2 separate regions of the Homo sapiens genome follow, and region 1 is linked to region 2. A link means that fine-mapping ties the variant in region 2 to the expression of a gene that starts in the linked region. Tissue or cell type: whole blood. Region 2 holds a variant in brackets; the other region holds the start of a gene. All regions are shown on one strand. Distances are between the middles of the regions.

Evidence for each region. PIP is the estimated chance that this variant, and not a neighbour inherited with it, causes the effect.
Region 1: it holds the start of SEMA4D, and the variant in region 2 is fine-mapped to the expression of SEMA4D in whole blood (TOPMed, PIP above 0.99).

What each region holds. Positions count from the first base shown.
Region 1 is chr9:89,495,837-89,501,230 of GRCh38, reverse strand. SEMA4D (semaphorin 4D) reads left to right here and starts at 3,118. Exons shown (of 16, transcript NM_001371194.2): 1 at 3,118-3,312. RefSeq lists silencers at 3,029-3,218, 3,649-3,798.
Region 2 is chr9:89,380,370-89,385,763 of GRCh38, reverse strand. SEMA4D (semaphorin 4D) reads left to right here. Exons shown (of 16, transcript NM_001371194.2): 14 at 4,418-4,590; 15 at 4,666-4,709. Among named protein-coding and RNA genes, the nearest start is that of SECISBP2, 65 kb to the right of the region's middle. The variant C/A (reference allele first, on the strand shown) is at 2,741.

The DNA.
Region 1 (5,394 bases), 120 kb before region 2:
TTTGCAAAGCATGGTCTCAGTATCCAAACACTTGGCATTTCTGGGGAAACTAGGAAATAGATTGGTTAATATGATCTTTGATATGCTTGAACTTAATATTGGAGGGGAAAGTAAGGGGGTGAGAGGTAAGGCAAGATTGGAGTTCATTTAGCTACTTTTATTTTTATTTTTTGAGACTGAGTTTTGCTCTGTCGCCCAAGCTGGAGTGCAGTGGTATATGATCTTGGCTCACTGCAACCTCCGCCTCCCGGGTTCAAGTGATTCTCCTGCCTCAGCCTCCTGAGTAGCTGGGATTACAGGTTTGTGCCACCATGCCCACCTAATTTTTGTATTTTTAGTAGAGACGGGGTTTCACCATGTTGGCAAGGCTGGTCTCGAACTCCTGACCTCAGGTGATCCGCCTGCCTCAGCCTCCCAAAGTGTTGGGATTACAGGCGTGAGCCACTGCACCCAGCCTGCTACTTTTATATCTATGTTTGAAATGTCCCACGACAGAGTGTGAAACAAGAATAAAAAGGCAAGCTTGGTCACTTTGGGAGACATAGGCAATCATGCTGAGAGAAGGGAACAGGGAAGAAGGTCAGAGAGGAGGGAAGAGGAAGACCTAATAATGGCATCCAAGTCCCGGTTCTAATGGTACTTGGGGCATCTTTGGATGCAAGTGAGCCAATAGTATGGGCTGAAGTTCTATCACTTACAACTAAGAGTCCTGTCTCCTTCATGAATGCAATAAACATGTTTGGGGGCAATTTTATATAAGCACGGTGCAAAGAAGCCCTTGTGTTCGCAGCCTGGGCATTGCGGAAAGCTTTTTGGAGTTTTTACTGAATTCTCTCATGTTCTTCTGTATGCATTAGGAAACAGGCTAGAGAGGACAGTATTCTGGAAGGTCATGATGCCAGAAGTGTGGGCCCCAGGACAGCCATGCAAAGTCTCTTCTTTGCCCTGGGCTGCCCTCTATTAGATTCTGAGCATGTGGGTCTAAAAGCCAGGAGAGAATTCAGCAGTTGTTGAGAAGCATACCCCTCTGCTGCTGGTCCCCTCCCTGCAGTGTGTTCCCAAGGTGGCCCCAGGCCTGTCTAGACGCTGGCTGTGAAGGGCACGCTCCTGTAGGGGCAGCCGGCTCTTCCACAGTGAGGTCTGTCAGAAAGCGCCCACGATAGGCAGGAATCCACTTTCTCATCTAATTTCCACCCATCTGTCCTCATTCTGCCCTTCATAACACCACAGAGTAATCCTTCTTCCCGGGACAGTTTTGCACATATTGGGGTTCTTCTGTCTTGTGCTCCACACATTGATTTTCTAGGCTGAAGACTCCCGGTGGGTCAACTCCCCTCCCACGGGATACTGCTGGCTGCCTTAGACACCAAGCAAGGGCATGGTATTCTAGATGTGTCTGACTAGTGAGGAATAAAAGAGAGTCCCCCCACCCCACCCCAATCAGTGCAATGCTTGCATGTGTAGATCCTAAGCGTGCATCCCTCCTTGGGTATAGAATGCTGTTAAACCAGTTCTGTCCTAATCCGTTCCCATTATGTTTCAATCCAAATGGGATGTGGAACATGGATTCATGGACCCCTACAATTGGAAAAGAGCTTGGAAAAGACTTCTCTAGTTTTTCCTGTAATAGTCACCAGCACTGAACCCGAGCACACGGTGCAGTGGGCTTTACCTGCCATTCTCTCTCCGTGCTCCCCAAACCCTCCAGGACGACCACACTGTCCTCATGTTGCAGGGTACAGAGGTTTGCTGAGGCCTGAGGTTATTTGGAAACTGCAGAGCTGTGAGTCAAGGGAGTCTATCAGATTCCAGGTCTGGATTCTTCAGCAAGAGGGTGGTGGCTGCCATGCCGTAGAGGGAGGAGGGGGTGCGTGCTCCACCCCACCCTGCTTGACACCAGCTTTGCCATCTTAGCCTTTGCTGGGCCGAAGCCCTATTCTCAGAGCTCCGGCACTGAACCACAGAAACCACAGGAGGCCCTAGAACGGAACTCTGAGACTGTTGGGCCTTTAACTCTGTGACTGTTGGGCCTGGGACTGGCTTCATTTGTAAACTCTGGCTCTCAGAGCCAGTGCTCAGCAGGAAAACAGCCTCAGGGCCCCTGCCCCTCAACAGCAGTCTGTAGTCCAGGGAGGTATCACCTGGCCTGGAGAGGGGCTCCCCAACTCCTCACATTTAGGGGAAATCTTAGCTGGTTCCGTAAGAAACTGTGTCCCCTTCTCAGGACTGTGTTCCTCAATAGGCCTCCCAGCCTGGCCAGTCACTGTGCGAGCCCTGTCACCTCTCCTGGGGGCAGAGGGAAGAGGTCTGGATGGAGCAGCACCATCTCTGAGGGCCCCCAGATCCCCAAACCCATGGGCTAGTCACAAACAAGTCTCACCAGCAGCCTCACAGGAGGACCATTTGCCATACAGAGTGGAAAATGATGAACGTTTGGCAAAAGGCTAGCACGGGGGTTCAGGGAAACCAAGACTCCAGGTGGTGCCAGCCCCTCCCCTGGGGAATGGGAGCAGCCTGGTGTGAAATATTCTTGCCCAAAGTCAGCAGCCAAGTGTTCTGGGTGCCACGTGCCTCACGCACACTGCAGGTCAGGTTCTCAGAAGAGCTGGCCCAGGGTCTGGGGGTGAAAAAAAACTGGGGGATTTGGGGGAGGCCTGGAAAGGGTGGGGTTCATCCAGGACCCCAGAAGGGGCAAGCTTGTCTATTGAGAGCTGGTGAGGAAGAGGGTGACAGGGCACCTCTTGGTCCTGGGAACGGGTGCTTGACTCAGCAGAGACCAACCCAGGGCTGAGGGACAACCCTCTGGGCCTGGCGGGGAGGCAAGAGAGATGGGAGGTGAGGAGGAAGGAGTGGGGAGCAAAAGTGGGGAGAAGGGGAGAGAGGTGGAAGAGTGTTGCGAAGGTGAAGAAAGAGGAGGAAAAAGAGAAGGGAGGAAAAGAAAGGTTGGGGGAGGGAAAGGAGGGAGGTGAGCAGGGGCGAGGAGGAGGGAGGAGGAAGGAGGAAGAAAGGGGCGGGGCCATAGGAGGGAAGAGAAGAAGGGGGAGAGGAAGGGGAAGGGAAAGGGGAGGAGGCGGGAAGGGAGGGGGAGCGGAGGAGGGGCCTGCGCGCCCGCCCCGCGCACTCCGTCCCCGCGCCGGCCTCAGCGCTCTCGCGCGCCGCAGCATCCCAGCCGCCGCTGCCGCCGCCGGGCCTCCCCGCCACCCCCTCCCCGGCCCGGCCGCCTCCCGCCGCTGCCGCCGCCGCCGCCGCCGCCATTCCTGGCGCCCGAACTCGCCCGGCCGGGAGCCGCCGCGGGCAGGACGCGCGCTGCAGGTAAGCGGCCGGGCTGGCGCGGGAGGGAGGGCGCGCGGGGCCGGGCAGGTGCGCTGGGGGCGGCCTGGACCCTCCGCGGAGCCCCCACTCCACACCCCTAGGCTCCTCACCGGACCCTCGGGGCCCTCCCCGAACCCCTGCAGGAGCCTCCTTCTGGGATCCCCGGACCCCTGGACTCCTTCCTGGATCCCCCCGGGGCCCCTCCTGGGACGCCTCCCAGAGACACCTACCCGGACCCCTCCGACCCCCTGGACCTCTCTGCTATCCCTCCCCGGCCTTCTCCCCTTCCCGGTTGCCTCCCCAGTCCCTGCGCGCAGGTGGCTCCTCTGGGCGCGGGGGAGCGGGGGCGCGCTGCATACCCGGGCCAGGGAGGGGGCGGTGCGCTCGGCCAGGCCCCGTCGCGCCCCGGCCCGCCCAGTCCGGCCCCGCCAGGTCAGGCCCCACTCCGGCCAGCCGGGCTCTGGCCGGGCCCCCGCGGGCTTCTATTTTGGTCGCGGAGGCCGCGGACCCTGTGCACTGGACCCGGCGCCGCGCACTCAGACAGGTGGGGCAGGTTGGGCCGCAGTGGTCAGGTCGCCGCCTTGGCAGTGAGTGCTGCAGGCCTCGGTTTCCTTTCGGGTTTTGGTTGCATTATTCTAGAACAGCCCAGGAGAACCACAAGCCTTAGCTTGGGCTGCACCTGTTGCAGCCGCCTAGTGAGCTGCAAGGGGCTGGCTCTACTGGGGTTATGCCAGTAAAAACGTGTAAAGGAGAGTTGAACTCGTGGTTGTCCTCTATTTTCTGGCTTAGTATTTTGGGGGGTAGGTGGGAGAGTGGGTGAATGGGAGTCTGTAAGTGGGCAGTTTGCGTCAAATGAGGCCTGGTGTCGAGGGCTGGGTCCTGCTTTCCGGAAGGTTTTCCACATGAAGTTGCTTTGCTTTTGTTTTGAAAACCTCACTCTGTGTTGAGCACATCCCAGGCTCGTGGGTGGCCAGGCCCCCGAAGGCCAAGCTGGACGTGGGGCCTGGGGCCAAGCATCTCACCCTGCTGTTCTGAGTCTTTTCAAATCCACCAGGCGCCACGGAACGGAAGTTTCCTTTCCTGGGGGTGACGTGACACCAGTGGCCTGTCACCTCATATGTGTCCTAGGCCTGGGGCCTGCCTGCTGGCTGCCCAGGCGAGGTTATTTGGGAATGTTTACTGTGTCCCAGAAACAGGCAGCTCTGGCCAGTGCAGGGGCAGGATTCTGGTAGAGATGATAATGCCCTGATTGTCATTTTGACAGTTGGTGTCTGCGTATATCATGTCTTGGTAGTCGTCAGCCAGAAGAAGAAAGCAGGCGGGCTCAGCATACCCACCAGGGAGGCTGGGGTGGGAAGATGAGGGATGCACTGGCCTGTTTCTGTGAGCAAAGACTGCCCTCCCATAAGGCCAGACCTTCAGACTGAGAAGAGTGTACGTGGTACACTCAGCGAGTCAAACAAAGAAATAGAAACACATCACTGGTGCCAGGAGCAGCCCTGGGGTCCCAGGAGGGTGGGCCGCTTAGGAGTTGGTAGACGGTGGAACTCAGTGGCTGTATTTCAGAGTGCAGACAGGCAAAAGGCCACCGTGGGGATGCAGAGCCCCAGCTGCCATGCCAGCCCAAGGTCTTGCAGCACAGCACAAGGGAGGGACTCCATGGGAGGGGGCCCACCTCCTGAGAAGCACACCCAGAGTCTGTTGAAAATGCAGCCTTGCACAGACCCCCCTGAGTGCCTGGGGTCCTGGGCTGAGGTTTAGAGTGCAAGACCAGCGACCATGTTGCATTTGATATCCAGTGGGTCTGGGGCCAGGGAGATGTCCTTGGTGACATCATCCACTTGTGGACAGTCCTCTCCATGTGGACCGCTGGAGGCAGATGTTACCTAGAGCCGCTTTCCCCACACCAAGCGGGTGTGTCTAGGCCAAAGCTTGGGAGTGCACGCTAATGGCCAGCTTTGACTGAGGAGGGAGGGAACGTCCGCTGCTGACAGCACAACAGCAAAATCAATAATGCATTGCAAAGATCAATGGTTTTCTCTATCTTCTGTGCTTCTGCATTGAGGCTGTTCAGGCTTCTGC
Region 2 (5,394 bases):
GCTGGGAGCAACAGGCAGAGGAAGAGGGCCCCTGTCTGGCCGGGTAAGATACCTACCCTTGGCAGGTGCGTATTTGCAAACACCCCTCCAGGTCTTCTGTCCTCTTCCCTCCCCTGTATCCACAAAGCTTGGGAGCCTGGGTCCTTTTACGTGGTCACCTCCCCTCTGCTAATGGAGAGTTCTCCCTCAGATCTGAAAGGAAAAGAGAATGAAATAGCCTGAGCAAGTTATAAGCCACTGGGTACTGGCATCTGTTCACCAGCCTCTCGGTCTCCAGGACACAAAGGGAGCCCTGGAGATTTGAAGGGTCGACGCTTTAGCCACTGTGGGGCCTCACCCCAGCCTCGTTGTTGAAAGAAGGGGACCCAGAAGCTCTTCTGGGGCCATCGTGCTGTTCAGTGGCCTCAGCCAGACTGGGCAGGCACCTACAACATCTCTAAAATGTGGACTTCTCATTAGAATGAAGATTGGGCCCCTGGTGTGGACATTCGTGAGAATGACACTCTGTTCCAAGGGTCACTTAGGGACCCAGGCTGGTGGAGGCTTCCAGGGCACATGGGCACTGATCCTCAAAGGCAGAAGGGGGTAGGAAGAGGAGGGCCGCACAGAGGGGGTTACGGGTCAGTGCCCACCCGCCATCTCCCAGAACTCGGTCACATGGCCACACCAGGGCAGCTGGCCACACAGGGAGCCTCGCGCCCAGGAGGAGGAGCCAGTGGGTTTGGGGAAGCGCTTGCTGGTCCTACTGGACCACCCGACCCGCCTGTCTCTGTAGGAGCCTCCATTCGTGGGGACGTGGCTTAGTTGCCTGGACAAGCGGAAATACATCCTGCCTGCCGTGGGGTCCTGTGCCTTCTCCTTGGGCCTCAGTAGGCTCCAGGTGGGGGTGGAAGGCCCAGCTCCATGGCCATGGCAGCAGGAAGTGGCTGTTCAGTGGTAAAAAGACTGTGCCGCCTGACCCCATCAGGCTCTCTCACGGTGATCAGCAAATGGAGAAACGGCCAGTACCACGCCCTCCCCCTGTCCTACAGCTGGGGAGGTGCGCTGTGCCTCCACCCTCACCTCCTCTCCCCTGATGACAAGCATGGGGTTTTGCTTTTTATTTTGGTAAATACACATCAGATGAAATTTGCCGTCTTAACCATTTTTCATTGTGCACGTCAGTGGCATTAAGAACATTCACGTTGTTTTGCAGCCATTACCACTGTCTGTCTGCAGGGTGCTTTTCATCTTCCCAAACAGAAGCTTTTTACCTGTGAAATACAAACTCTTCATTTTCCCCTCCTCCAGCCCTGGGCAGCCGCCATTCTGCTTTCTGTTTCTGTCTGGGTACCTCATATGAGTGGAATCACACAGTATTTATCCATTTGTAACTGGCTTATTTCACTTAACATAAAGTCCTCAAGGTTCCTCCCTGCTGTAGCAGGGGTCAGGGTTTTCCAAGGCTACATACTCCTCTGTCGTATGTGAATACCGCATTTTGTGAGTCCCGCATTTTGTGTGTGCGTTCATCCCTTGATGGACACGGTTGCTCCCACCTTCTGGCTTCTGTGAACAGTGCTGCTGTGAACGTGGGTGTGCAGATACCTCAAGTCCTTGCTTTCCATTCCTTGGGCGCACACAGCAGATGCGGTTTGCTCGGCCCTCTCTGAGCCCACCGAGTAGGCTGTGTCTGTATTTTCACCAGGACTCCTTGGGATGCTGAGCTACAGCTAGCGTGGCAGAGGGCAAGGAAGGCACTTAGACAGCTCAGTTGCCTCTGATCACGTCCACCGTCACTCCAACCTGCCCTCGGGGTCTGACGCGCACACACAGCAGCAGAGACAGAGATGGGAGCATGAGAGCTGCCTGCAAGGGGACAATCCTCAGGCCCAGGGAAGGCGGAGACAGGGGGCGTCGAGGGGCAGGAGTGCACAGGACAGGCTTGCTCTCAGCGGGCCTCACTCATGCTGCCAGGTGCCTGGTCAGGCTTTTTTTCTTTGCCTTTAAAAATTTTGTCTTGAAATAATTTTAAATTTACAGAAGAGTTTTGATGATTGCACAGAAGGATCTTGAGCGCCCCCACCTAGCTCCACATGTCCGATGTCTCACATAGCCAGTGTGCATTTATCTGAGCCAAGGTGCTGTCATGGTGCAGTGCGTTACCTGAACCCCAGACCCTGGACCCTCCTACCTCCCGCCCACCACATTCCTGGCTCAGCACCTCAGGTTGCACTGGACACTGCATCTCCTCGGCTTCTGCTCTGTTCCTGCCTCCCTGACCTCAGCACTCCTGGAGAGGAGTAGTCTGGTGTTTTGTGGTGTGTCTGGTGTATTCTTGTGATTATCTTGGGGTCGTGGTTTTAGGGGGAGCACCAAAGAGGGCGCTTTCTGGGGATGGGGCATCTGTATGACTCGCACCAGCGTGATGACCTTGGTCATTCTGTCCAAGTCACCACCGTCTTTTTCCATGTCGAGTGTGTCGGGGCATGTAGTCCACACTGGGGGTGGGGGAGAGTGAGCCCCACCTCCCAGGGGAGTCATGTGGGAAACCCCCACAGTCATTCATGCTTATTTGCAGGGACAGACTTGGAGGCTACAGAAATGCCCTGTTCTCCCACCCACTGACATCCACATCGACCAGTGGGTCCTGCCTGCAGCAGTTACAGCTGGCTGTCCTGACGACCAGTTCCTCCTTCCCTGTCCCCTCTTCCCTTCCACAGTCATCCCTTGGTCTCTGTGTGGCGTCGTTTAGTTTTTA[C/A]AGCTTAGTTTCATTTGGGCTGCAGCCCAGCCCCATCCGGGAGAAGCGGAAGCTGGGGCTGAGTCTCCCGCAGGGTGCAGGAGGTGGTCTGGATCCCCTTGGGACAGGCCTTGCCCCCCAGAGCCCACCCCACCCTCCACAGCTACCCTCAAGCCTCTCTTTGGGGTGAGGAGTCAGGCGGGCCCCACTTGGCCACCCAGGGCACCCTGCTCTGCACTGCATGGTGTTCACGCCACCTCGCAGGTGCCCCCCGCGGGACCCAACAGGACCAGCTGTCCCTTGGAAGTTACCCAGCTTGGCTTTGCTGCCAGAGAATGTTTCCGCCACCTCCACAAGCCGCGCGATGCCCGAACTGTGATCTGGGATGTCATCCTCAATCCTTCCCACAAACGTGGCTCACACATGGCCTCATCTGCCCAGGTCTCTGCTGCTGCTGCTGCTGTGAGGCCAGCGGCGGGCCAGGTTCCCTCTGCTGTGTATTATCACAGTTTCCATCCTTGGGGGCTTTCCCTTTCTCTCGTGGGTCTGTGTCCGCACAGCTGGATGTGTGGCCTGGGGCTTCCTGTATTGGCATCAGGGCCTGTGATCTTCCAACCACACTCTGAAGTTGACTCCGAGCGTATCCTCTGAGGATGAAGGTCGTGTTTCATCTGACTGTAAACCACTAAGTCATGTGTAAATTTGGGAATCTTGTATTGTTAACCAAAAGGTGTCCCCAGGCTGTTGAGGCAGATGCCCTGGGCAGAGGCTAGAGAGCGCGCTCCACGGGCCACCTCCAGGTCTGTTGCACGCCCCCGAGCTTCAGGTGGGTGCACTGCATGTGGGGCACCCTCCTTCCAGCTGAGTTCCGTTCAAAAGCAGTCAGCAGCCCTGGATGCCTGTGTGCTGGGCACTGCTGGTGCCAGGTGGGCTGATGGGATGGACCTGAAGCTGGTGTCACTGGGAACCAAGTGTCCCAGAAGGTGGGAGAGTCTCACCTGCCCTCTGCTGTGGGTGTGGCTGCTCTGGAGCTCGGAGGTTGACTTCCCGTCTGTGAGCTCTTCCCTTTTACATATAGATAAGTGAAAAGCAAAAGGCATTGTTCCTTTTTTATGTTTTGTATCACGATCTCCTCATCCTTTGCATGTCGTCCGTTTGGCATCCCTGTTATGTTAGGCCTCTGCTGGATCCAGACCCTCACGAGAGGCTCCCCGCCCACAGGTGCTCACATTCTGGCTCGGGGGACGAGGTTGGGCTTCGAGGTGGTGTGCTTCAGCCTCTGGCTGCAGCCCCTTCTCACCTATAGTGAGGCCGGGAAGATGACCGGGAGTGCCAGGCTCATGCATCCTCTGCTGCAGGGAGGAGATCTGGAGGTGGGGACTGAACAGCCTCCCCACTGGCTAAGAGAAACACGTGCAGAGAAGCGCTTTGCTGGAGGGCAGGCACCTGTGGGTGCCCAGACAGGGGAGAGAGGGATTTGGACCTAAGGCCCAGTGAGCCCTGACATAGCACGTGGATTCTGCAGGAAGGTCACAGACCTGCCTTGTTTGCCTCTGGTTCTGAGTACCTCTCCTCCTTACTGCAATGTCCCCTGAAGGTACACTCTGGCTGCTTCCCACACACTGGTGCAGAAGCAGAGGCCATGCTCCTGGATGCCTGCTTGCCTGATGCTAGTTCTTCTCTGTCTCATACACGCAGGGCAACAGGTTTGTCTATGCTGGCTCTAACTCGGGCGTGGTCCAGGCCCCGCTGGCCTTCTGTGGGAAGCACGGCACCTGCGAGGACTGTGTGCTGGCGCGGGACCCCTACTGCGCCTGGAGCCCGCCCACAGCGACCTGCGTGGCTCTGCACCAGACCGAGAGCCCCAGCAGGTATGGGGCGGGATGCGCTGCCTGGGGATGTCCCCCATGTGTGTGGGTGAATAACACGTGCCGGTTGTTTTGCAGGGGTTTGATTCAGGAGATGAGCGGCGATGCTTCTGTGTGCCCGGGTGAGTGACTCCTCGACGTCCCATTTCCTTTGGGAGTGGCGAGGTCTTGTAGCCATTTCACGGTGCTTCAGTTCTGTGGCATTTGTGTGTGTTTTGTTTTTCTTTCTCCACTCGGAACAGAGGTCAAGTGTTCTGTAGCAGACTCGTGGTCTTCTCTGTCTTTTTTTCTTGCCGAAAGAGTACTTGAAGCCACTTAGAGTGTATCTGCTTACTGGGAAGCAGTCTCCTTCCAAAACCATCCTGTTTTCTTTCTGCTTAGCTTGGGGCTCATTAAGCAAAACCTAAGCCTGTTATAAATGGGGAGAAAGGAGCCCATGAGTGATTAATCCTCAGGCAGTGTAAGGGCTGGGGTGGTGTTTCCCCTGGGGCTCCCACCTGGGATTCACCCGCCTGTGGATGTCTGAAATAGCACCACACCCAGAGGGAGGGGTGGCATCAGGCCAGATGCCCCTTCCCCAGCAGCCACCTTCCAGGGTGCTAAAGGCAGACTTGACCCTCAGTTCTGTGTCTTCCTGACCCTGACAAGACAGCTGTCATCAGACTAAGAAAGGTTTAGGCAGCTGGGCATGGTGGTACACGCCTGTAGTCCCAGCTACTAGGGAGGCTGAGGCAGGAGGATTGCTTGTGCCCAGGGGTTCAAGGCTCAGTGAGCTTATCATGCCACTGCACTCCAGCCTGGGGTGAC